Regions from separate parts of the Homo sapiens genome. Here region 1 is linked to region 2. The links come from fine-mapping of genetic effects on gene expression. A gene starts in region 2. The other region holds a variant in brackets. All regions are shown on one strand. Distances are from middle to middle.

Region 1 (11,948 bases), 150 kb before region 2:
AGGGTATTCTGATCCGTATATTGTTAACTTGGTACCTTAGTGGTGGAAAGAGGGCCTCTAGCTTTCTAGTCTACCCCTATAGCTATTGTTCTTTTAAGAAGTATGTTTTCGAAGTTACATTTCTTCTCTTTCCTCAATGTAACATTTTAGGAAACACCACCTTAAAACAAAGCAAAGCAAAATATAGAAAACAAGAACCTGGCTTGACTGCCACCTTTAGGGGTACATCAGATCAGTTGTTTACGTGCTGATTCAGCCTTCATTCTCTCCTATCTTTTTGGATGGAGGTGAGAGTGATGAACTTGTCTTGCTTTTCTCAGAACTTTAGGGTAAACCTAGGCTTATCATCCTTCCTTAACTGCTAGGAGGGCATATACTATGTATAGATGATGCTGATTAAATCTTTGGAGCTTTAATGATGTGTGACAGCCAATGAATTTTTCTAATATAGTATAAAAACTTCATGATTTTATATCATTCTTAAAGGAAGAGGCTTTAAAGCAGATGTACTTCTTTTTTCATTTTAAAGCTTAAGTACTTAGATATATGAGAGAAAATGAAGAAGTATGGAAATTTGATCCTGTACACTTAGCTTCATGAAGAGTGAGATGCATTTTCTGAACATAGCCCCATTGACTCTTCTGGAATTAGTTGGAGATAATTTGGTTTGAAATGTCGGCTTTGTAAATAGAAATGGAAATCATTAAAACAGATAAAAGTGAACATAGAAACTGCGAACTAGAATAAACAGTATGTTGGAAATGACCATGTGGCTCAATTTTGCATCAGTTTTCTACTTCTTTAGTTCATGATGCCCATTTTATGTCATGTGATTACAGCAGTGTGATCAGAGCAGTTAGCATATTCTTGGCATTTTCTCCTCATTAACTTTCACTTCTTCAGAGGGACCTTGAGTAAAATAAACACATTTGAGCAGTCTTAAGCAAATTGTTTGAATTGTTTCCTCAGTATACAGAATCAACCAAAAGTAGGTTGGATTGAGTTGAGTTGGGTTTAGTTTAATATCATACTTTACTACAGCATCATACATACATATACAATATTACCTAGCATCTGTAGCACCCATAAAGGATTCTCTAATGCATGTGAAGTAAAAGGAAAGAGAGTGTTTAAGTCCTGACTTTGAAACTGTTGTGTTAATTGTGAACTTTTGCTGAGTCTATACATTGAAGAAGGTAACACTCAGCATGTTGAGATCACAACTGCTAGATTAGTGCTTGGAGGCAGTAGCTGTGCTGATGTGAGGCATTAATGGCTGGGTGAGTTCAATCAGATATCCTGCCTCCAGTGTCTTTGTGTAATGGTATTTACTAGATTTCAAACAGACTGCTGAGAAAGATGAAATATAATCTCATGTATTATCTCTGTCTTGAAAAAATTAGATAATAAAGTTGTTCTCTTACTGGCATATGTTTTATTAACCTTCGTAGAGTCAACTTAAAGGACAGATGTCTGTAGAATTGAAACCTTTTGCTAGAGTGTTATTAAGTGCATTTTTGAGTTCTAGGAATCATGGGGTTGAGTAGAGCAGGTAAGCATTTTTTAAAACCACTCAGAGGACAATCTTATGTCATATTCTGAGGTTAGCTGGAGAGAAAAAATGTGATGTAAATTGTGTGCAACTACATTCTTTTTGTTGTTTTTCTTCCTTACAGAGCCTGGAGAAAGTTCTTGTGGAATTCAGTCACAAGGAGTTGTTTGATTTCTATAACAAGGTCTGTATTTTTAAAATAATTTTCTAATATGTGGAGTTTTTTTCATAATATTTTGTTTCATTTTATGAATTCTTATTTTTAAATGTCATATTATGGAACTAAGTTCTTTAAACTTCCCTTATAAAAGACCTTATGTTTCACAGGAGGAAGTATAGCAGAAATGAAGAGAATTTGAAAAACTAAATCAGGAAGAAAAGGAAAATAGTTTTAATTAAAGCAATAGGATTGTTGCTTTAATATAAAACATTAAGTAATGAACTTTGTGATTCCTAGCCACACTGACACTTTAAATATATATAATGTCAAATACTTTAATTTCTGGGCCCAAGGGTAAAGGGAAACATGCCTTTAGAGATTTATCTGTGAGTATATTTCATGTCTCTTTCTGAAGACTGATTTTGTAATCCAGGAAAATATACTCCCTCCACCCCCCAACTTTAAAATATTATCAAGTAGGCAGTTCTTCTGCCAGTGTACTGCCACTGGAGCATGCGTGTGGTTATCCTGTTCAGCCCACCACCACTGTACCCACTCCCTCATATGTAAGCCTCCAATAAAACCCCATGTCTCATTAAAAAAAAAATTATGGAGTGATAATTTAAAAGGAAACAGCTGAAGACACTTAAAACAACAGTATTAAGAAATCTTCTTTCTTTGAAAATTTGAAAACTTAAATTTTCAAGCACAAATTCTAATATCTTCACCTAAAAAGAAAAATATTCTAAGTGGTAATTTTATTGCTATGTGAATGGATTTAATATTCATAGTTACCAGTGCTATTTTTTCCTTTCTATTTGCATGTGTCTGAATAACACTTGATATGAGTTTCGTTCCCTTCACTAACGTCTTTTTTTTTTTTTGTCTTTGTAAATAGCTAGAGACTATACAAGCACAGCTGGATTCCCTTACATGATGTTTTCGAAGACTGTTTTTTTCATCACGCTCCTGCCACCTCATTATTTTGCATTGAAGATACATTGCCAGGTTGTGTTTTCTGAAGGATTCAGTGACTTGCTTTCTGTAAATTATATGGCTTATCACTTCTTAGACAAATAACAACCAATAGAGATCATTGTTAAGAATACTGAGGTTCTAATATACTTTCTTTAGTTCTGTGAGCCAACAGTAATTATTAAGAACACTTTCCCTTTAAAGGAAACAAAAGTGAATACCATATTGTTTTTACTGTCATAGTGTTGCTTTCTTGCCTGTCCTGCTTAGTTTTTACTTGCTGGATGATACCATAATGTATCAAGGAGCGTCCATGGATACAAGATAAGATGTGTACCTTAGTAGAATACAGAGCTTTGGTAATTACATGAATAAAATTAAGAAAATAGCCATATACAATCAAATACACTATGGCATTTTTATTTGAATATGATGAGTATATTTTGCTTCGGAAATAATATAGGAAGGAAATGTAAAATAGTGAGTAGTATGGTATCAGTTAATTCCAGTCTGAGCTTCTCTGTCAACTTCAGTTTCTCTCTCAGTTTAATGATTTAATAATAGTCCAGGTTTTTGTGTGTTTTTCTTTATACTGCAAATTAATAATGATTCACTTTATAGTTTGGGAGACAGAATCAGGTCTTGAATAAAATAATTGTAATGAGTGCTAAATGGGCACCATTATTCGAATCAGATACCTTTTATATTCTCTTTCCATAAATACGTTGATTTCTGTCAATAAAATTTTTGTGTCTTAGGATTGGTTGAAGTGTACATTTTTTAATTATATACATTATAGTATATTTTATGCCATGAATGTATGTAAATGAATACATTTACGTACATTTGTTAAAATGTATGTAATGAATACATTTACATACATTTGTTTAAAAAAAACTTGAATTTTTTATGAATGAAATTTCTGTATTGTTTCCAAAAAGAGAGAGATTCAAACATGACTT[G/T]CTTCACATGAAGAAATTTGATTTCAGAAATGTCCTATATTTAAATAAGCAAAGCCATTGAAATTGAAGCACATTTCTTATTTGAAGCATCTGGGAAATACAACTGTTAAGTATCTCTCAAATATTCAGTATATGGAATTTATACCCACATTTGTTTGTATATCTATTTGTAAGCTGTTGCTTAGAAGAATTGAGAGTTTGGATTATTTCAGAATACAACTATTACAGTTTTCCATAGTTGATTGAAAGTTTTTAAACTCAAACTTTCATTGGTAGAATATCTGGAAGGCATGTTTGCAATATAATGTGGCTTGTAGGATCTCTCCTACTTTTTTACGCTCTGTTTTGCCAGTTCTCAAAAGTAAATACCTGAAGTCCTAGAGGTACTATAAACATTTTGGTAAACATTCTTTGAGACTTTTTCTCATGTACATGTAAATATACATCATCCCAAGTTAAATTTGATAGGCCTTCCTGACAGTAGCCATATAGATAAATAGAAGTTTTCGTTGGTTTAGTGGCAAAACTGAATTCTTAATGTAGGTATACAAGTTAAATATGATGGTTAGAAATGAAGTTTTCTGAAAGTAGTTCGTTGTATGCTCCCTAAAAGAATTAGCTTTATATTTATCTTAAGAATATCTCTAAACCTATGCAAAAATATGGCAAATAGTCTTCTTTCCATTAGTCTAGTTCAACAAAATCTGACTCAGAGACAGTAAAGAAAGGGCAAGTAGAAGATCTAATGCCAACTAAGAAGATAATTATTTCTGAAATATTTAGTTGAAGATAACTTTCTTTCTTAAGACATTACTGTTGTTATGATGCACAAGTCAAAGAACATGTGGCATTTCCAAAGAGTATTAAATGCATGTTACTTTTTTATAAAAATAAGATAAATGAGATTAATGGGGCTTGGAACTGCAATCTTGGTAAATAAAGTTACTGTATGTCTTTCACGAGTGTGTGACATGAGGATTGAATAGACAGAATTGCTTGTTAGAAAGAGGAACTAATTTTTGTATCTATTACAAATTATATTTGTAATTCTTCCCTAATTATAAATTATCATGATTATTTTTATTTGGGAAATACCAAAAAATCATAAATAACTAATCTAAACTTACAGAATCCTATCATCCAAAAATGGCCATTAATGACAGTTTGATAGATTTATTGCAGTTTTTTTGTATCCATTTATCTTTCTTGTTCATTTTTTCTTCTTTCCTAACAAATTGAAGTAATGCCATAAATTCTGTTTCATACTTTGCTTTATGTACCCTTACAGCATGAACATTTTTCATATCTTTATTGCCCAAACATAATTTTAATGTATATTAAATAGTTCATCATTTGAATGATCTATACTTTATATACTTTATATTTCTCAAAATAATTAAATTGTCCAAATTTTGGCACATTTAGATTATTCAAATTTTTGAACGTAGGGAACTCACTGATAAATATAATTATACATAAACCCTAGACCACATCTCTCGTGATATTATTAGTATAGATTCCTAGAAGTAGAGTTGCTATGTCAAAAGTATGAAGATTTATTTTCTATTTTCATCTTTAATCGGATTTTCATTATAAAAAAACAAGGCCAGGTGTGGTGGCTTATGCCTGTAATCCCAACACTTTGGGAGGCTGAGGCAGGAGGATCACCTGAACCCAGGAGTTTGAGAACAGCCCACGCGACATGGCAAAGCCTTATTTCTATAAAAAAATACAAAAATTATCCAGGCTTGGTGGTGCATGCCTATAGTCTCAGCTACTCAGGAGGCTGAGGTGGGAGGATCACCTGAGCCCAGGAGGTTGAGGCTGCGAGTCATTCTATCATCCCACTGCACTTCAGCCTAGGTGACAGAATGAGACCTTTTCTCATACATATATATATAGCTGCCCATTAAAACAAAGTTGCACCATTTTGCCATCTCACTTCCTGGAAGTACCTACCTAATACTGCAGACATTTGGTGGGTGCAGTAGCTCATGTCTGTAATCCTAGCACTTTGGGAGGCTGAGGTGGGCAGATTGCTGGAGCCCGGGAGATTGAGACCACCATGGTCAACATAGTGAGTCCTGTCTCTACAAAAAAAAAAAAAAAAAAAAAAAAAAATAATAATAATAATAAATTAGCCAGGTGTGGTGGCACACACCTGTGGTCCCAGCTACTTGGGAGGCTGAGGTGGGAGAACTGCTTGAGCCCAGGCAGTTGAGGCTGTAGTGAGCTGTGATCATGCCACTGCCCTTTAGCATGGGCAACAGAGCAAAACCCCATCTCAACACACAAAAAACCAGACATCTTATAATACAAATATACACACCTCTTGTGTATTTTCAAAAATACATTTATATTTATTTCAAGGCCTTTGATATATATTGCTAAATTGTTTCTCCAAAGGATTATATTAATTTGTACTCCCACAAACAATGAATGAGAACTCACTTGCCTCAAGCCACCTTCAGCAGCCCCTTCTTCCTTCTATACATTTCACCCTCAACATTTTTTATAACCTGAGGTCAGTGTTTGTTTAGGAAGAGTGATGGGACATATTGAGATATGTCACTTTGATAACTATAGAAGGATTGAAAAGGAAATCTCTTTAAAAATCAAATATGAGAGCCAATAACTCAGTATTCAAGTGTAAGGGCTTCGAAGTCAGGCATTTATTTATTCAACAAGTAATCACTGCTGAGTATGGTGAATATGGTGGCAGGAACTGTGTATGCTAGGTACCATGTTTACAGTGATAGGCAAAACTAGTTCTTGGCCTCTTGAAATGTAATGTGTTAGTGAAAAGTAAACAAATATGGAATAAATGAACAAATATGGGACAAAATATAATTGGATTCTATTCAGAGAAAATTAATGATGGAACCAAACTTGGACTGGGGCATCAAGGAAGGATTCTCTGAGGAGTGAGATTTGAGCTGAGTCCAATATGATGAGTTAAGATGGCACAATAGTAGAATAGAGTGACAGGCATTCTAGAGAGAATGGCCCATGCAAAATCTCAGAGGATGGGAAAGGCTTAGCGCATTTCAGGAACCAAAAGGTCAGTGTGGCTAGAGTGTAGTGAACAGATGGCATAGTGGAGTGCACTACAATTAGGTAGACAGGGAGCCATTCTCTTACAAGTTTTGTCGTTTTTACCACCAAAATGTATTGCAAGTGTATCTCCAGGGCACTACCCTGTCCAAGCTGCCATCAACTTTGCCCTGGACCACCTTTCTTCCATTCTAGCCCTCCTCCAGTCCAGTCGTTGTACAGAGCTAATTTTTAAAAAATAACCTATTAATTATACCATCTCCCTGCCTAAAACCCTTCAAAGGATCCTATTACACATTAAGTAAAATTTAACGATCTGGTTTCTCAGGACAGTGCAAAGGTTATATCCTTGTTCTTCTACTTTGTGTGTGTGTGTTGAGCAAGTTAATTTGTGAAAGTTCACTTTACTTATCTTTGTAATAGGAATAATAATCTAACTAACATGAGTGTTTTGAAGATTAAGTGAAATTCATGTTAAACATTTAGCATAATCCTTGAATCTCAATCATATAATAAGCATTAGCTGACATTTTTATAATCATTAAGAAAATAAGCAGACTCTCTGTTGAAATTTTTCCAGGTGAAGTTTGAATTAGAGTCAAAATTGTAGAAAGCTTGCTATGAAGCCCCTTCACTTTAAACTTATTTGGCATTCTAATAACAACTCCATTTTATAATCACAGATTCTAACACAATGCCAATTCTGCTTTTATTTTTTATTTAAAAAATGAGGTAATACATGTATTATGGGACCAGAATGAAAAAAATACTTTCTTCTGAGTACCTTTCCACGTGGCTCTTCTGGCTCTGAGAAATCTTTTTCTCTACTCAGTGAACTTTGATTTCTTCTTACCGTAAATAATGTCTTCTACACTTTATTCATTATACCAAGGATCAGCAAATGATGGACATGACCCACCACTTGTCTTTGTAAATAAAGTTTTATTGGAACACAGTTGTCTTGCTACCAAACTCACTCTTGAGACTTTCTCCCTTCCTTGCTTTGAAGAAATAATACCATGTTATAAGAGAGGCTGCGGATAGGGCTACATGACAAGGAACTGAGGGTGACCTCTAGGGGCTGAGGGAGAACAGCCAGCAAGAAATTGAGGCCCTTAGCCTTATAGCCTCTATGAAATAAATTCTGCGAACAACCTTGAATTAGCCTGGAAATGGGTTTTCTTGTCGTTTTTTTGTTTGGCTTTGTTTTGTTTTTTTCCCTGTTAAGCTTCTGGATGAGAGCACAGTCCAACTGACTCTTATTGCAGCCTTGTGAGATTTTAAACAAAGGACCCAACTAAACTATGCTTGAACTCTACCCATGGTAATTGTGAGATGATAACTCTGTTGTTTTAAACCTCTAACTTTGTAGTAATTTGTTACGCTGCAATAGATAACTAAAACAACAGCCATGCTCAATTGTTTACATATGGTCTGTAGCTGCTTTTGAACAACAGCAGGGTTGAGTAGTTGCAGCAGAGACCATATGGCCCACAAAGCCTAAAACCTGGCCCTTTATAGAAAGAAAGGATGCAGAACCCTGCTTTATACTATGCTCTCTAAACCGGAGCATCCCTAGAGAAATAAAGTAGTTGGTAGGGAACACAAAAAGTCGTAAGATGGACGTTGTATATATTTCAATAGCATCACTTCTACTTTTTGCCAGAAGTAGAAGAAATTACATTTTCTATCCTCTTTTGCAGCTACTGCAGCCGTGGAACTAAGTGTTGCTAATGAATTGTGAATGGAAGTGATCATTCATCTCCAGTTGTCTTCCTCTTTCTGTGATTGAAACCCAGATTTGGAGCTGAGTCAGCTTTGAGCAGACAAGAATGCTAATGCTTAAGAGGTAGGGAGCAACAAGATGGAAGGAACCTGGGTCCCTGAATATACTTATAGAACACAGCTGTCTCCATGCCCTTGACAGAAATAAAATATCTTGTTTGAGTTATTAAATTTGGGGTCAGTTTAGGCTATACACAGCACGTTTGCCTGTAGCCTAACTAATATGGTGGCAACATAATTTTATTATAATTGGCCAGTAATGTACAACATATTTTAAAATGGAGATTTACATTTTATGGCAAAATGCATATAAATGTTAAAGAGGAAATGGGAAACCTTAAAAAACAGAACAAAACCTTTGTGCTTGCAGCCTGCGAATTCAGGCTAAATTCTCAGTGTTACTGGGAACCTATATTCACCTCCCTCCTTCAGTGTGGTTATTTTGAGACAAATGTTTTGAGAAACCATAAGGGTATATTGTAAATTTCCCCCAAAGTCTTTCCATAATTCTTTTTCTACTGTTGAATAAGAGGACTGGGATGGTTCTGATTTATTCAGATGCATTAGTCAGAAGCTACTCAGGAATTATAATTTAAATTTCTGATCAATTTTGCTTCCCTAAAACTTTGATTTTTTTTTTGCCATCATTATGCAAATAGTCCTACTCAATAGACCAGCTTCATTTAATGCTAAAATTAGGAACACATTAATTTGAGGTATTTTATAGTAAAGCTTAATGGCATTTTTAATTTTGGAGAATTTTAAGGATTTTTAACCATTGCTCCCATCTCGCCATATGCACACTCCTGAAGTATTTTTGAAGCTCTTTTGCTTTTCTCTGAACTATAAGGTTGTACTAGCTGTTATGGAGGCCTACAATCCAAATCTAAATGATGGCAGTTTTCATAGCCTACTTTGTTTTATTTGAAATGGAAAGTTACTGATTTTTATTTCAAAAGAAGTAGTCTGCAAAGACAGGAAAGGTGAAGCCAGTCCAGTCAACAAATCTGTAAGGAAGATGGTGCTAGAGGCTTAGAGAGACTGTTTCAATCTCCAAGGCAGGAAAAATAATGAATATATAATAATCTTCTTTTAGTGAAACCAGAGTTCAGTCATTTTTAGCATCTTTTAATGAGAACCTGATTTTTTAATGATTTTTAAAGATTTTTCCTTCAAAAAATCTAGGTAAAGGAAAGCAGTTAATAGTAAATTTAATAGTTGCATTTATTTTTTTCTGACTTATGTTTGTATTTTTTTAATTGGCAAATAAAAATTAAAAACACTGTACATTCTACCCAAAACTTTAAAGGAAAGTCAATAATAAAGTTTTTTAAATCTATGATAAATATAGACTTGCTGTAAGGCAAGGAGTGCAGTGATTTCTCAAGGCCTTTCCTCATCTCTCCTTCTGAGATTTCTAAGTTTCCTTTGTGCACTATTTTTAGTCCACATTTCAAATTATTCTGCAGTTTCAACCAGACTACATAAGGGGACAAAGGAAAAAGCTGCTGTCCCCTGGATAAGGCTGCTTTAACACATCAACCTTGGAAGCTCCAGCATTCCTCTCCATCCCAAGAATGTGTTTATGCTTTGACAGAGGAGCAGAGTAATTTCCAGCTGATCAGAGAAAAGGTGACTTGTGTATTCCAGACCATGTGTTCTACTTTGCAGTCCAGCTTCTTACTCTCTTTCATGCTGCTGCAAGTAGTTCTACGAACATTGGGGTGCTTTAGAAATACTGAATGAATGAATTAATAGAGTATGTAGTTTTTTTCTGCCTTGGGCTCTCTCCATTTATTTGCACAGTACTATCTAAATTCTTAAAATAATTGTAAACTTAAAGTTGTACAAAAGTAGTTTTCAAACTGGTTTAGCCAGCTATGCTGGTATTTGGTAATTCCATTAGGGAATAGCCACATCCCTTCTAGGGAGTATCTCCTGAGGTCACTGATCCTTTTATTCATCATCCAGGAGATAAACATGAGAATAAAAGCCTTATAACCAGCCAGAGACCCAGATTTCTGCCCTCCAGAAGGCTAGAGCAAGTTCTCGCATTGCTGTGAAGAGATTTATGATAGTCATGAAGTTGACCTACACATGCTTCTGGGTACTGATGCTGCAAGACTGAAAACAGTTACATTCCTAGCAATTTCAGAGTTGTTTTATGTGATAGGGTCAAAATGAAGTGCTCCAGAGAGACATCAACAACATTCTTATACTGAAATATATGTTCAGTGTGTATAGATTTTCTGAGCTCATTACCCAGAAGATTTTAATTTCCTGCTGAAAAGAGTATCTTGATTAAAGACACACATAGACACACACACACACACACACACTCCTGTACACACTGCCTACAAACAGGCTTTCCTCACTGATGTGGGACAATTCTGACAAAGTTTTTTTAAGTCTCCCTTTACATGGCACAGATTGTTCCAACTTATCACAAATATACCAGCTGGACAAAAATCAGATAAAGTTGACATAGATAGTACAGAAAGCAGGCAAGATAAACAGAGCCACACAGAAAGCTGTTCAGTAACAGTTTAGTTTAATTTTATGCAACTAAGACTGTGCCTTTAGATGTAGAGCCCAATGTGAGGGATCAGTTTCTTATGATAGAGTAATATTTATAACATCTAACTTTTCTACCTTATGGCAGAATGCCCTGTGAATCCTTGAAACTCAAGGCCTTCTTTGTCAGAGTTTTGGTTCTTACTGCAAAGTATGTTCTTTCCTTATGTCATCCAAACAAAGTAACTAGAGTAGTAAAAAGAAAGTCAGTGAGTTTGGATGCATTGGCTTTCTGGACTTGCAAATTATCCAGTGCAGGCATTTCTCACACAGCAGGCTTGGAGGACTCTGGGGGTGGCCACCTTTGCTAGATATGCTATTAACCTCCTTCATATGGTTGGGTCAGTGATCTTGTAAAGTTCTGCTTGGCAGGCTCATAGGTGTTGATAGGTGCCCTAAACTGATGGACCAGTAGAGGGTGGCCACCATCTGTGAGGTTATTTCTTCAGGCCCTCAATAAGCACTTACCCAAATGCACTGATTTTACAGTGCTGTGGTTCTGTACTGGATTCCATGAAGCACCCTTCCCGTCTCTGATTTTCCAGGATCATTTTCCTTAAGTTAATGCCATTCCTGTAAATGCATTTCTACTCTTTGATCCCTTTTCTTTAGTTTACACTTTCAGTTAAATCTGTAAGCAAGATAATCTTTGAAAATTATTTTAATTAATGTTTATATTTAGCTCTATAGTCTGTGTAAGGAGATCCAGGGTTACAAGAGTCTGCTTGAAAAAATAGAGCCACATCAGATCAAATTTTCTTTCCATAGGATTGTATTTTTTGAAATGTTAAAAATTCTCCTATAATTAAATATTTAAACCTTATTTCATCATTTTTCTAAGCGTTTTTACTTTAGGGTTTACTAAAGGAAGCCAAATCAATTTCAT
Region 2 (11,545 bases):
GAACATGGATTCCATTACAAAAGCCAAAAAAAAAAAAAGTAAAAACAACAACAACCACCTACTCCTAAACAACAGCAAAACTAATGGACTTTTGGAACAAAGGGCTCTCACCCACCCTCAGCTAAGTACTCAGGTCTGAAGGCAACCACACTGATTATGGAGGCTCCACTTTTTCACTATCCAACTCAAAACTGTCATTGTCAGTCTTTTTTTGAATTCTTTTTAAAGACAAAACTAAACCCAGAAGATCGAACTGGAAATAAAAGCAGACAAAGAGACCACCAAATATACTGTTTAAAAAAACAACAACAACACTGCTCATGGTTTACAGTATGTGGACAGTTCCTTTGTTCATGATAGAGTAAACAAAAGTCCCTTTTGTGTGCTTGAGCAAATGAAAACCAAGAGGAGAAAAACACACACCACCTCCCATCCCCTAAAAACATAATTAACAAAATAAAAAATAAAATAAAAAATCCTTTGCCCCAGTCAACGTTTTTGCAGCATCCATTGTGGTCGGCCTTGTACTTGGAGTTACTCGTTAATCACAGCAGGGACCAGCCTGCCTGCATCTATTTCCATGTCATTTCTTTGTGTGCACTGCACGTGTGTGCTGTGCACATGGCTTGGAGACTCCTCCCAGGTGTCTGCCCAACCGCGCACCGCCTGCTCTCTAGCCAGTGGACGCAGCAGAAAAGAGGAATGGGACGTTAGTCCCTTTTCTGCTAGCAAATAAGGATATCACCGTATTGAAATAATCTAAGGGAAGCAGGGAGCTCTTGAGGATGAAAGGGGATTTGACACACCCACAACAACACTGGGGTCCATGCTTCGCAGCACAGCCAAAGGGTGGTTCCAGTTGGCACAACTAGAAGGCAGTGTGAATTGGAGGGTGTGGTGCTGCCCAGCGTTCTCAGGCTGTCGCATGACAACTATCACCACTGCATTCTTCCATCTGCTTGACTCCAATCTTTCAGAGGGCTGGAAGTGGGGCAGAGGGTGGGGAAGGGAGGGTTAAATAAATATCTGCACTTATTTCAAAAGGGGGAACAGTTGATCATAAAGAGTTTACAAGTGTACACAACTCAAGGTGTAAGGCACAAATTTACATGTGGAAAACAGGCTATTCACAGATGTAACCCCACGAAGAACCCGTGTGATCAAATCATTAATTTATGCAAGGTAGCAGCCAGCATATTAGTTCACACCATTTGTGGATTTTGTTTGCTGTCTCACATGCAAGGTGAAATGGGATGGCATATTGCAAGCTGGTGCCTTCACAGAAAGTCAGAACCATGGACAAAACCATGTTGGCATCAATGAGATATGATGTGCCATTCTAAAAGCTTTCTCTCCTGATTGCTTTAGAAATTAGGATCTGGAAGGACTTTAACATGAATTAGTTTTTTTGCATGTTTATAGGCCAGAGACCTGACCAGGCAATGAACTGATAGATTTAAATAAATATTCCCCTCCTAACTTTTTCCTTTAGCTACAGACCAGACAGTCCAAACACAAAGCTCAGAATTCCAGCTCCAACTTATTTACTCAGTGAATTTATTGTAAAAATAAAGAAACTCAATTATTCCAGTTAATGGATTTCACGTTAAATAGTTTAACTTTCAATGGGCTTTCTGAAGAGCTGTTCATAGGATGATATTTGGAAGAGTCCTTTCCTTAAGGAAAAAAAGGGTGAACAATAAATAAAGAGTTACTTGCGTTAACGGTCACGTTATTTCATTAAAAGAGAGGAGGAGCAGAAATCTATGACATAGTTGCCCAACATGGCATTTATCTGCTGCAACAGAAAGCTGTAACACTGGCGGGCATTTCACAGTATTTGCGCATAGTAAACTTCTGCCATTGTTAAAGTCTGAGTTAGAATTATCAATGAATTCTTTTTTTTTTGTCTTTTTAAATTTTCTTGATTTTAAAAAATGTATTTGTGTTTTGCAGGTTGGAACGCAAACCCAGTCTGGCCACGTCCCGTGAAGTTGTGGACAAAATGTTTCAGTTTCTGTTCACCTCTGTGCGTGTGTGTGTATGTGTTGTGTGCATGTGTGTGTGTGTGTGTGTGTGGGGGTGGGGGATGGGGTAGGTATGTGCTTTTGGCTCATGTTTGTGATGATAACTGAAGTCTTTTGTGGGTCCGACCTGTTGTAGGGTGTGGGGGAAAGTGAAGGAAGAGAATGAAGGTGAGTCCCCGCCGTTGCAAACCTTCACCAAACCACGCGGCCCAGTTTTCGTGAGTACCCCTGTGTCCCAGAGAGGAGGACCCAGCGTCCTCGGCTCTGCCGCAGGCCTTCTTGGTCTGGTGGGTACTCGAGGCAGTTGAGAACCTTGCTGAGCTGAGCGGGCACCTCGCCTTGCCTGCTGGTTCGACACCTGACCCCCTCCCCCTGGGATTATGTACACGCATCATTGGGCTTCATGGATGTGGAAAGGGGAGCAAAGGATGGTTTGGGGGGTACGTCCGGCTTTAGCGAGGGCGTACGCTTCAGCCCCGACCTTGTCAGTGAGTTGTAGGCGTTGAGGCTGGGCTGCCTCGAGACAGTCACGGCCTGGCCAGATGGCTGGGAGCTGTGCACCTGGATGGAGTCCACCCTCTGCGGGGCGGGCGGCGGGTTGTCTCCCCTGCCAAAGCTCTGGTTTCTGGAGAGGTGAGAGGAATTGGAGGAGTTAGTGTTGTTTCTTTTGAGAGTGGTGGCCTGGTGGCTTCTCGTGAGCGAGTTCGTGGGGTAGCTCCTCTTATAGTCAACCCCGTAGGAAGAGGAGTGGTGCATTTCCAGCCGCTTGCTTAGACCGGTCTGAGACAGGGAGGCTCCCGGGGGACCCAGGGAGGCCTCCCGCTGTGGAACTTTGGGGGGCAGGCTGTCCAGGTTCTCCACAAGGTTCACCCCATGGTTGGGACTCTTGCTGCTGAGATGTTCCTTGATGGTCTTATACTCCAGTGTGGCGGCCTGGTCCTCCAGCGCCATCTGGGCCACCTCGCTCATTTTGGGCTGGTCCACGTACTCATGCTGGTAGCCCTGCTGCGTGATGGGCAGGACCACCACGCTGGGGATGTGGCTGGGGGAGGCCCGCAGGGGCAGGTCCGTGGGAATCACAGGGGAGCCCATGGGGGGCATGTCCTTTGTGCAGGCATTGATGAGGTTCTGGTTCCTCTCCCACTCGCGGCTGCCGCGGCTGGGCTTCCGCTTCTGCTGCAGCGTTGGGGTTGACTCTGGGGTGGGGAGGGCCGTCAGGTCCAGGTGGTGCTGGTCTGCTTTAATGAGCATCTTGGCCGTGTTGCCGGGAGTGGCGAGCTTGCCGTTGTGCATGAGTGGCGTGAGGATGGCCTCCGGCTTTGGGTCTTTGGATTGAGTGTCCCCAAAGAGGCCGCTGAGCTTGGTGACGCTGCTCATGGAGCCCCGGCGCGAGTGGGTGAGCTCCTTCTCCTTGCGCTGCACCACAGCCACGTCTTTGCGCCGATGATCACAGACGCAGTAGACGGTGATGCCCGAGAAGACGGCCCCCATGACGAAAGCCAGGATGACTGCAATGGCCAAGAGGGTGACGGGAACCAGCTGGTCGTGGCCTTTGAGGTAACTTTCCCGAATCACTCCTGCAATAGACATCGCATATGGCGTTAAGAAATGAAAGCACACCCCGAGGCTTGTTTTTGCTTGGCATTCACCTTGTTAATTAATAACAGTAGTAAGTGACAACAGCACCTCTGCACAACTTGTCTTCCAAGCTCAGCTTGCCAAACATTAACCAATTAATCCTCCCCAAGCCCCTCGTGTGCAGTATGTAAATGGACTCCATTTGTAGCCTTCTTTGTTGTCTAAAAAAGTGCTGTTCAGGCCGGGCACGGTGACTCACGCCTGTAATCCCAGCACTTTGGGAGGCCGAGGCGGGTGGATCACGAGGTCAGGAGTTGAAGACCAGCCTGGCCAAGATGGTGAAACCCCCGTCTCTACTAAAAAAAAAAAAAAAAAAAAAAAAAATTAGCCAGGCGCGGTGGCGGGGGCTTGTGATCCTAGGTACTCCGGAGGCTGAGGTAGAGAATTGTTTGAACCTGGGAGGTGGAGGTTGCAGTGAAGGGAGATCAGGCCACTGTACTCCAGCCTGGGTGACAGAGCGAGACTCCGTTTCAAAAAAAGAAAGAAAGAAAAGTGCTGTTCACTCTTTCCAGTACCTGCACTTTCTACTCTGCTTCACTCCAGGGAATATGGGAGGTTTTGGCTTTCAAAAGTTATCTTTCTTTCCTTCTTTATGGCTTTTTAACCTTCCCTTCCTAGAACTGGGATAACCAAGTTATCCTGAGTCTGGAGGAAGAGGCAACAATTTTATGCATGTTAGACAAACAAATCACACACTCTGGGCTTCCAGTTGGGATCTTTTCCGACGGCCCCCTTGTGGCCACCGGAGCCTCCGTCTGGGGAAAAGTGTTTGCCTTTTAAGCAACTAGAGGAAAGAGAGTGTGTGTCATTTTTATTTACACTGAGAGAATATAGCTAAAGTTCACAGACTACAAATGTTTGTGCTGATTTTGCATCACCTCTCAAAAAAAAAAAAAAAAAAAAACAGTGCAAACTCAATTTCAGGTAACTATCCTGAATATTTGAATGAAGCTTTCTCACTGGAACTGAAAGAAGATTCAGAAATAAGACCATTTGGGGCCCTGTAGTGGGTTTGAGAAGTGTTAGGTACCATTATTGCACCTAGAGTTTGCTGTCACAGTGGGATTTTTCAGCAGAGCTAATCTCTTCAATTTAATAAAAATTATGTGACTACACCCATCCGTAATCTTACACTACATTAACCAGGATTCAGTGTTTCTGAAGGAAGGTGCTTTCGCTATTCCTGCTTAATCAGCCACCCAGCTGAGTGACTCTAATCAAATGCAAACACAGAAGCTTTTATTTTTTAATACCAAGTGAGAATACACATCACAGTTGTCAGATCTTAAGTGCTTGATGCAGTCGCTAAAAAATAAAATCTCTAATACCTCAATTCCTGCCTCTGGAGAGTGAAAGAACATGAATACATTAGAGGCACTGCATGGGCTGAGGAAATGTAAACATTGTTCCTATTATGGAAATGATAGCAAGACAGAAAAGGTACCTTCTCTGGTCTCGGGAGACGCATTTTTCATCTACTAAATCAACTCTTTCTGGAATATGTTTCATGTATTTTACTGGCAGGTATCAGTGGCACAGAATTAGAATGAAAGGAAATAAAGATCTCTACCCCTTCCCAAGCCCACAACACGCAACCTTAAACTTCTACTGAAATGTTGTCTTTGTCACAGCCGAGACCTTGAAGCTTTCTCATGGGGGTTTTTCTGCTAAAATATTTTGATTTCTGAAGTGATGGTTTTAAAACCCAGAAACCTTAGCCTGAAAAGTACATTCTCTTTTTCTTTCCTTCCTAAGGGTCCTCCTCCCTTCAATTGTGACATCACAGTTGGTTGCTGTGGAAATGATTGTCCTGTGACAAAGGATTGTGACTTAAGTAGAAGCAGCAAATATCTCTTAAGAAATAAAGATTCTGTGATCCAACAAATACCCTTGGTAATAAAAGGCAGTCAAGGCAATTCACCATAAGGAAAGAGTGTACAAGACGGTAAGATATCAAATAATTTTCAAATGTGATACTTTTCAAATATTTCCAGATTTATCTCCATCAGCTTTTAAGGGGTAGAAACTGAGAAGCAAAAAACAGCCGGAAATTTGGCTGTAACTCACACCTTTTATGTGTGAAGCTCCCCAAACAGTGGGGTGTCCTGCATTCAAATATATTTTAGTACCTATTCACCAAGGAAATGTGCTAATGAAAATTTTCTTTCTTAAATTTGCATTTCCTTATTATGCTAAAATAGCTACTGATTTTTCTTCAATTTTGATTATGTATGGGGTTCTACCGAACACCGTTTTTAACCCCCTACATATAATTGCACAAAAATGTACACCTGTGGATAAAATGGTTTTAATTTCTCTCATTGACTTGGTGATTTCAGTGGGAGTTGAACACAGGCTAGACGGCCCCAGTAATGGGGTGGGGGTGTATTAGGTGTTTTTTTCATGGCAATGAGTATTTCATGAAACCCTTCCAGGCTACCAAATTTAGGGGGACTGGATATTCCCAATAAATGTGTATTATAATAGGAAGCTATTTACAATTGACTTTGGCATTCTACAATTTAAACTGCCCTCTCAGTTTAAAAGGAACGTGGAAAGAGTAAAGCTAGAGCAATTCATTGGTTTCACTGGGAAAACTGCAAATTTTTCACATGTATCCATTGCTTCTTAGCCTTACTTTTAGCTCCCAAATATCATTCTTCTTTCATGTCTGAAGGTCCTTGGCTATTTTAGACTCATGAAAGCTACTTATTCTTTCACTGGGAAGAACTCTTTTTTAGTGGATGATATTTGAGTTCAGGTTTTTGGTTGTTAACAAGTTAAGTAGGATCTGACCTTTCAGGAAAATGGTATCTCAGACAGATTTTTTCCCCCGTCTCATTTTGTTATATAAAGAGTGGCCTTAAAAACATTTTTGCATGTCTTCATCTATCCATGGGGAGGCAGAGGGCTTTCCTCATCTGCTTGTGTAAATTCAGAAACGTCCAAAGATGGAAACAGATCAGAGAGTAAGTTGAAAGTGCAGTTGAAGAAGATAAGGTAAACGTTATTTTTGGAAATGCCTTTCAAACTTAAAGCTTTCTGCTTATATCATGAAAAAGGCCAAAGAAGCATTCACAGAAATGATCAAGTCAACTTTGTGGAATAGCCATTGTGAAGGCTTGGAAACAGCAGACTTGTCAGTAGTGGTGATAAAAGCAGCTAGAGAAGATCTCAGTGGGCTTGGAATTGCAGGCTCCCACTTACTGGCTGGGTGACCTTTTGGCAAGTGACTTAACATCTCTGGGCCTCAGTTTTTTTATCTGTAGCATGAGGTGAACACACCTAATCTTACTGCCTTACTGGATTGTTACAAGAATCAAAGGAAATAAAAAATAGGAAAGAGCTTAAATGCTGTAGTTTGCTGGACAAATCTAAAGCTCAAAAGAAGCCACAAAGGAGAAGTGGTGGGTTAGTGGCTCACAGAGGGCTTCCAAGTGATAGTCGCAGCTGCTCCATTGGATTCCATTTGCTATTGGTCTCCCATGGGAGAGGAGTAGACCTGTGCTTCCAGGTCCAAACTTCGTGCCTTCTAAATGTAGTCAAAAAGGTGATATGAGATTTCGAAGCAATATAAGGGAATGCATACTGTTTCAGGATGCCTATAGTTACTGAATTTTGAAATAATTAAAACAACAGAAGTGGAAAATGTTGGCAATTATAGTTGGATTCTCAGTGGAGTGCAAATCCTGGGCAAGTACCACATTTTTTCGGCATTTATAACCCTTGCCATCCACAGAGCTCTTAGTTGGGTAACTCAACAAATGATGGCTGAATAAATGGGTTTTCAATACATTGTAGAGCTATTTTTAAATGAACTTCTAAACTTGGGAGGTAATCTTTAGAGTGACTATCACCCTTGCTTTTGAAGTCATGGAAATAAATTCTATCTCCAATCATATAAAAGAATTTTAATAGTAGCATCTATCAGACAAACAAAAATAAATCTATAATGGTGCTCAGTATTTGCTCAAAACAATAAGAAGAGAAACTATTTCAAAAATGAAATTAGTTCTGGGAAAAATCCAAAAGAGTCGATGACGATAAATGGGTTATTTACAACAACAGAGTGCCCCAGTGGAACTGAATAATTAGAAAAAAAAAAAATGCATCTCTGCAAAGGGCAAAGGGCAAAGGGCAACAGGCTAGAGCTGAGTATCCCTTGCTTCAGATGCTGCCTGGAAGCCCTGGGCAAGTAAAGGGCCCTTGGAGGGTGGTGTACTCCCCTCCGCAGGTATCCTCCCACTGCAGAGAGAACAATCAGAGTTGGCTTCTCTACCCTAGGGTCTTGAAATTCCTTCCTCTGCCAACCCCTGCATCCTCTTCTGCTCTTACCAATTGAAAATGGGGCATTAGTAATGAAAACAGTATTTGAAAAATCCTTTGCATTGATTCATTAACCACCAGCTATTTCTCACCAGTCATAAGGTGCTAAATGGTTAGTCTTTCCACCTTCCTATTGCAGGAAGCAAGGCACACCCTGGCTTAGAGATTTCTCTGAAATCATGTCTTAAATTGGCAGAACTGAGAAAGAATAGAATCTCCACTGTTTTTTTTTTTTTTTCCTGAGGTGAGAGTTTTCAGATGCTGGAGGGAGACCTCAGAGAGGAAATTTGAAGTTCTTTAGAGTCCAAAGCAATGAAAAGATTATGAAGGACCCTGCCCCTAGACCCTGCAACATGTGATTCAAAATAAGAACAATTGTAAACTGAAAACTAAGAGGAAGCCCAATACAATTCTGACTTTTCCTATGATGACCATGTTAATAAATTTTGAAATATCAAACACTACATTCCTTATTTTAAAAAATGTTTTCTAGTAGTCCTGCTCATGGATACTATTCCGTGCAAAGGGAACCTAGCACCAGGCTCTGAGACAATTTGCTTTAGAAATGATGTTTTCCCCTAACTTAGGGTTGGGTTGTTTCTTTATTATCACTCTCCTAGTATAACAAGGTTTTGGCTCCAAGCATCTTTGTGGCTGCCTTCAGCAAACATTTACCAAGCACTGCACTAGGTGTCGGGGAAGGACAATGATGAATGAGGCATAAACCAGCAGGGAAGAAGGCAAGTGCTTGCATACAACTCTGTCCAAAGTGTGGCTATGTCATGAGTTACATCACTTCTGCTTCAACAGTGGGCAAAAGCTTTACATTGGAAATGGCATTTGAGCTAAGCCTTAAAGATGCACAGGATCTTAGCTGGAGCAGAGAGAGCAACAAGAACTGAGCCTTGGAGGGAAGGAAAGGGAAGGCCGTAGTGAGTAATAGCAAATGGTCTAACTCCCTTCTAGTCTGTTAGGCTGGAGGCATGAGCCACCCTTCCATACTCAAGCTTGCTTCATGGCTCTCATACAGGCTGTTCTCTCTGCCTGGAATGTCCCTACTCATTTTCCCACTCATCAGACCCTATCTTTAGGGCTCAGCTTAAATGGGGAAGCCTTCTCTGACTCCTTAGGCCAGTTAAGTTCTTCCTTCTAAAGTGTCCCCAGAGCTCTGCATTCCCTTTATTCTAAAATCATCACTAGTATGATACTTGTTTTTCTCACCTAGACTGCTAAAACTCACCACTGAATCTTCAGGCAGAAAGGTGCTCAGTAAATATCTTTTAAATAAATAGTAAAGGAATGCATACATGAATGAGCACTTGTAGAGAAAATACAAGAGCAAGAGCTAGAAATACCATTTGGAAGGCTGTGGACAGCCTTGAATGATTAAAAAAGAGGTTTAGAAGATCTGCCACTCATAGAAGGAAAGTTCTTGGTTAATTTATCTGCAGTTTCTCTTGCCTGAGAAAGCTAACTTTCGGCTTGCTCTGTTCCACATTGAATCCATTATCGCAAAACTCTTGGCTTCAAAGAGTCAGTATCATTGCATCAAAAGCACAGCTAGTCTACCTGCATTTATTATTACTGTTTTTAAAATTAAAACTCTCAATCTTAAAGTATACTAATGCCCTGCACCTTACACAAATAGCTGGGAGATGTTATCTGTCCTATCAAAATGTGAAGCAAACAGACAAGCAAAAATACGTAAAATTAATCACACCTATTAAGCTAAATACAAAGGAAGAGCTCTACTCACCCCCACCCCAATTACCACCCTAAGCGTGTAAGACACAGGCAACCAGTAACCTAACTCGAAATGGTTAAGTGTGCACTTTCCCCTCTCACCCCCTTTCACTGGACGGCCCGTTTCTGAGCTGCTGTGATATGATGGATGTGTCTGTCTCCATAGTGAAGTGATTAATAGGCATCTGTGTAAAGTGGACCCGGTGACCACAAAGACAACAAAGCCTCTCTGTGTCCTTTAGAGAAATATGCAAAGGCAAAAAGGAGGATGGACATTTCCTCCATCACTGAGCCAGAGAGGGTTTGTGTTGGGTCTGAGAGCTAAGAAAGATGGCAAAACACCAAGAAAAGCCCCGGAGTAGCATCCCCTAAAAATAGATTCTTGATTCTGCTTTATAGTAAGACAAGCCTACAATTTCCTTGAAATCCTCATAACAACTTGAGTGAATGGAATCTAACAGCCCAATTTTTCTTGTTTGCAAATCTTACTGCAACAAAATTCCAGGCTCACGGTCCTGCAAGACAGTATAAATGAATGAACTAATCACTAGCCAAGCATCGCCCCGCTAACCACACAGGGCCCGCTGTAATCCCTATTAAGAAGAGAAGAAAACAAACAAGGGAAAAACCCTAACTGGAGACAATTTATTCTCAAAGCCACACCCCAGCCAGTCGAGGTGACCACGCTGAAAGTGAAATGGGAACTCTCTGTGGTTATCTGGGCAGGAAGCAGCCTTCTTCTTGTCTTACGGCATAATGTGAACCAGATGGCTTAGGAATAAACTGACATGCCAGCAGCCATGGAAATAGGCTTGGAGTTTATAACTTAAAGTTTCCTTTTCCTTTAAGTGTGTGTGTGTGTGTGTGTGCATGTGTGTGTGCGCGTGTGTGTGTATGTATGTGTTTTTCCTGGCAGGCTACAGATTAGGTACCAGGAGGGGCCATGGTCTTCAAGATATATAAAGTTAATGACTGACCATGCCAAAGTGGAGGTAGCTTCCTGGCCTGGCTGTTTAATGTCCTGAATTCAGAAGCTATTTTAAAACTCACATATTGAAATAATGCTTGGAGTGGTTGACTGTAGATGAACCCACTTCCACTTCGATCACCTTTAAAAGTGATGCATTTTTGGTTGGGATGTCATCACAGGGATAGAAGGGAGAATGAGCCTGGAATTCATTCTATTTCATTTTTTTAGAGAAGAAACAGCTTCATTTTTCCCTGTGTGCTGGGAACGCTCAGTTCACTGTTCCTCCACTGCTCTACTGCTTTAGAAATGGCATTGCCAATGGGAGTGCTACAGCCAGAGCACGGGCTGATGTCTAGACTAAGAGTCATGATAAGATAATTTTTAAAAGCCATGCCCTGGAATGCTGGTTTGTGGTTTCATGTGTTAGAACTGTTACTGTCCCCGTAAAGGTAATGATTCTTTTACATTGGCAAAGTTTTAGCAGAGTCTGCAAGGCGTATTTTCCTGCTTTTTGAAGTTTTCTTTCATCAGCTTTCTTAAATAAGACGAGAAACACAACATCTAAGTGATTTCTAAAACCAGACAAAGCATTTCTATTTTCCAACTTCCTGGTCCCATCTTTTTCCTTTACTCTCTCAAAAGGCATCAAAGCCACAAAATGGAGAAGTGGACCTCCTTAAAAAATTGTGAAATTTGGGCAAGTCTTTGCTTGGATTATTTGATTACTTGCTTTGAATTTTCTCTATAAAGCAAAGATAAAACAGATATGAAGAAACAGGTCTGTTTCAATACTGCTAAATCTTCCAACTTGAATTTTCTAGAAATGTAGTTCTTGAGATCT

What was found. PIP is the estimated chance that this variant, and not a neighbour inherited with it, causes the effect.
Region 1: its variant is fine-mapped to the expression of SEMA6A-AS1 in T cells (TOPMed, PIP 0.95).

What each region holds. Positions count from the first base shown.
Region 1 is chr5:116,289,841-116,301,788 of GRCh38, forward strand. COMMD10 (COMM domain containing 10) reads left to right here. Exons shown (of 7, transcript NM_016144.4): 6 at 1,677-1,736; 7 at 2,611-3,447. The coding sequence ends at 2,649. Among named protein-coding and RNA genes, the nearest start is that of MIR12130, 40 kb to the left of the region's middle. The variant G/T (reference allele first, on the strand shown) is at 3,650.
Region 2 is chr5:116,444,208-116,455,752 of GRCh38, forward strand. SEMA6A-AS1 (SEMA6A antisense RNA 1) reads left to right here and starts at 3,291. Exons shown (of 3, transcript NR_109879.1): 1 at 3,291-3,584; 2 at 5,421-5,610. SEMA6A (semaphorin 6A) reads right to left here. Exons shown (of 19, transcript NM_020796.5): 19 at 1-3,604. The coding sequence ends at 2,406. RefSeq lists a silencer at 10,497-10,576.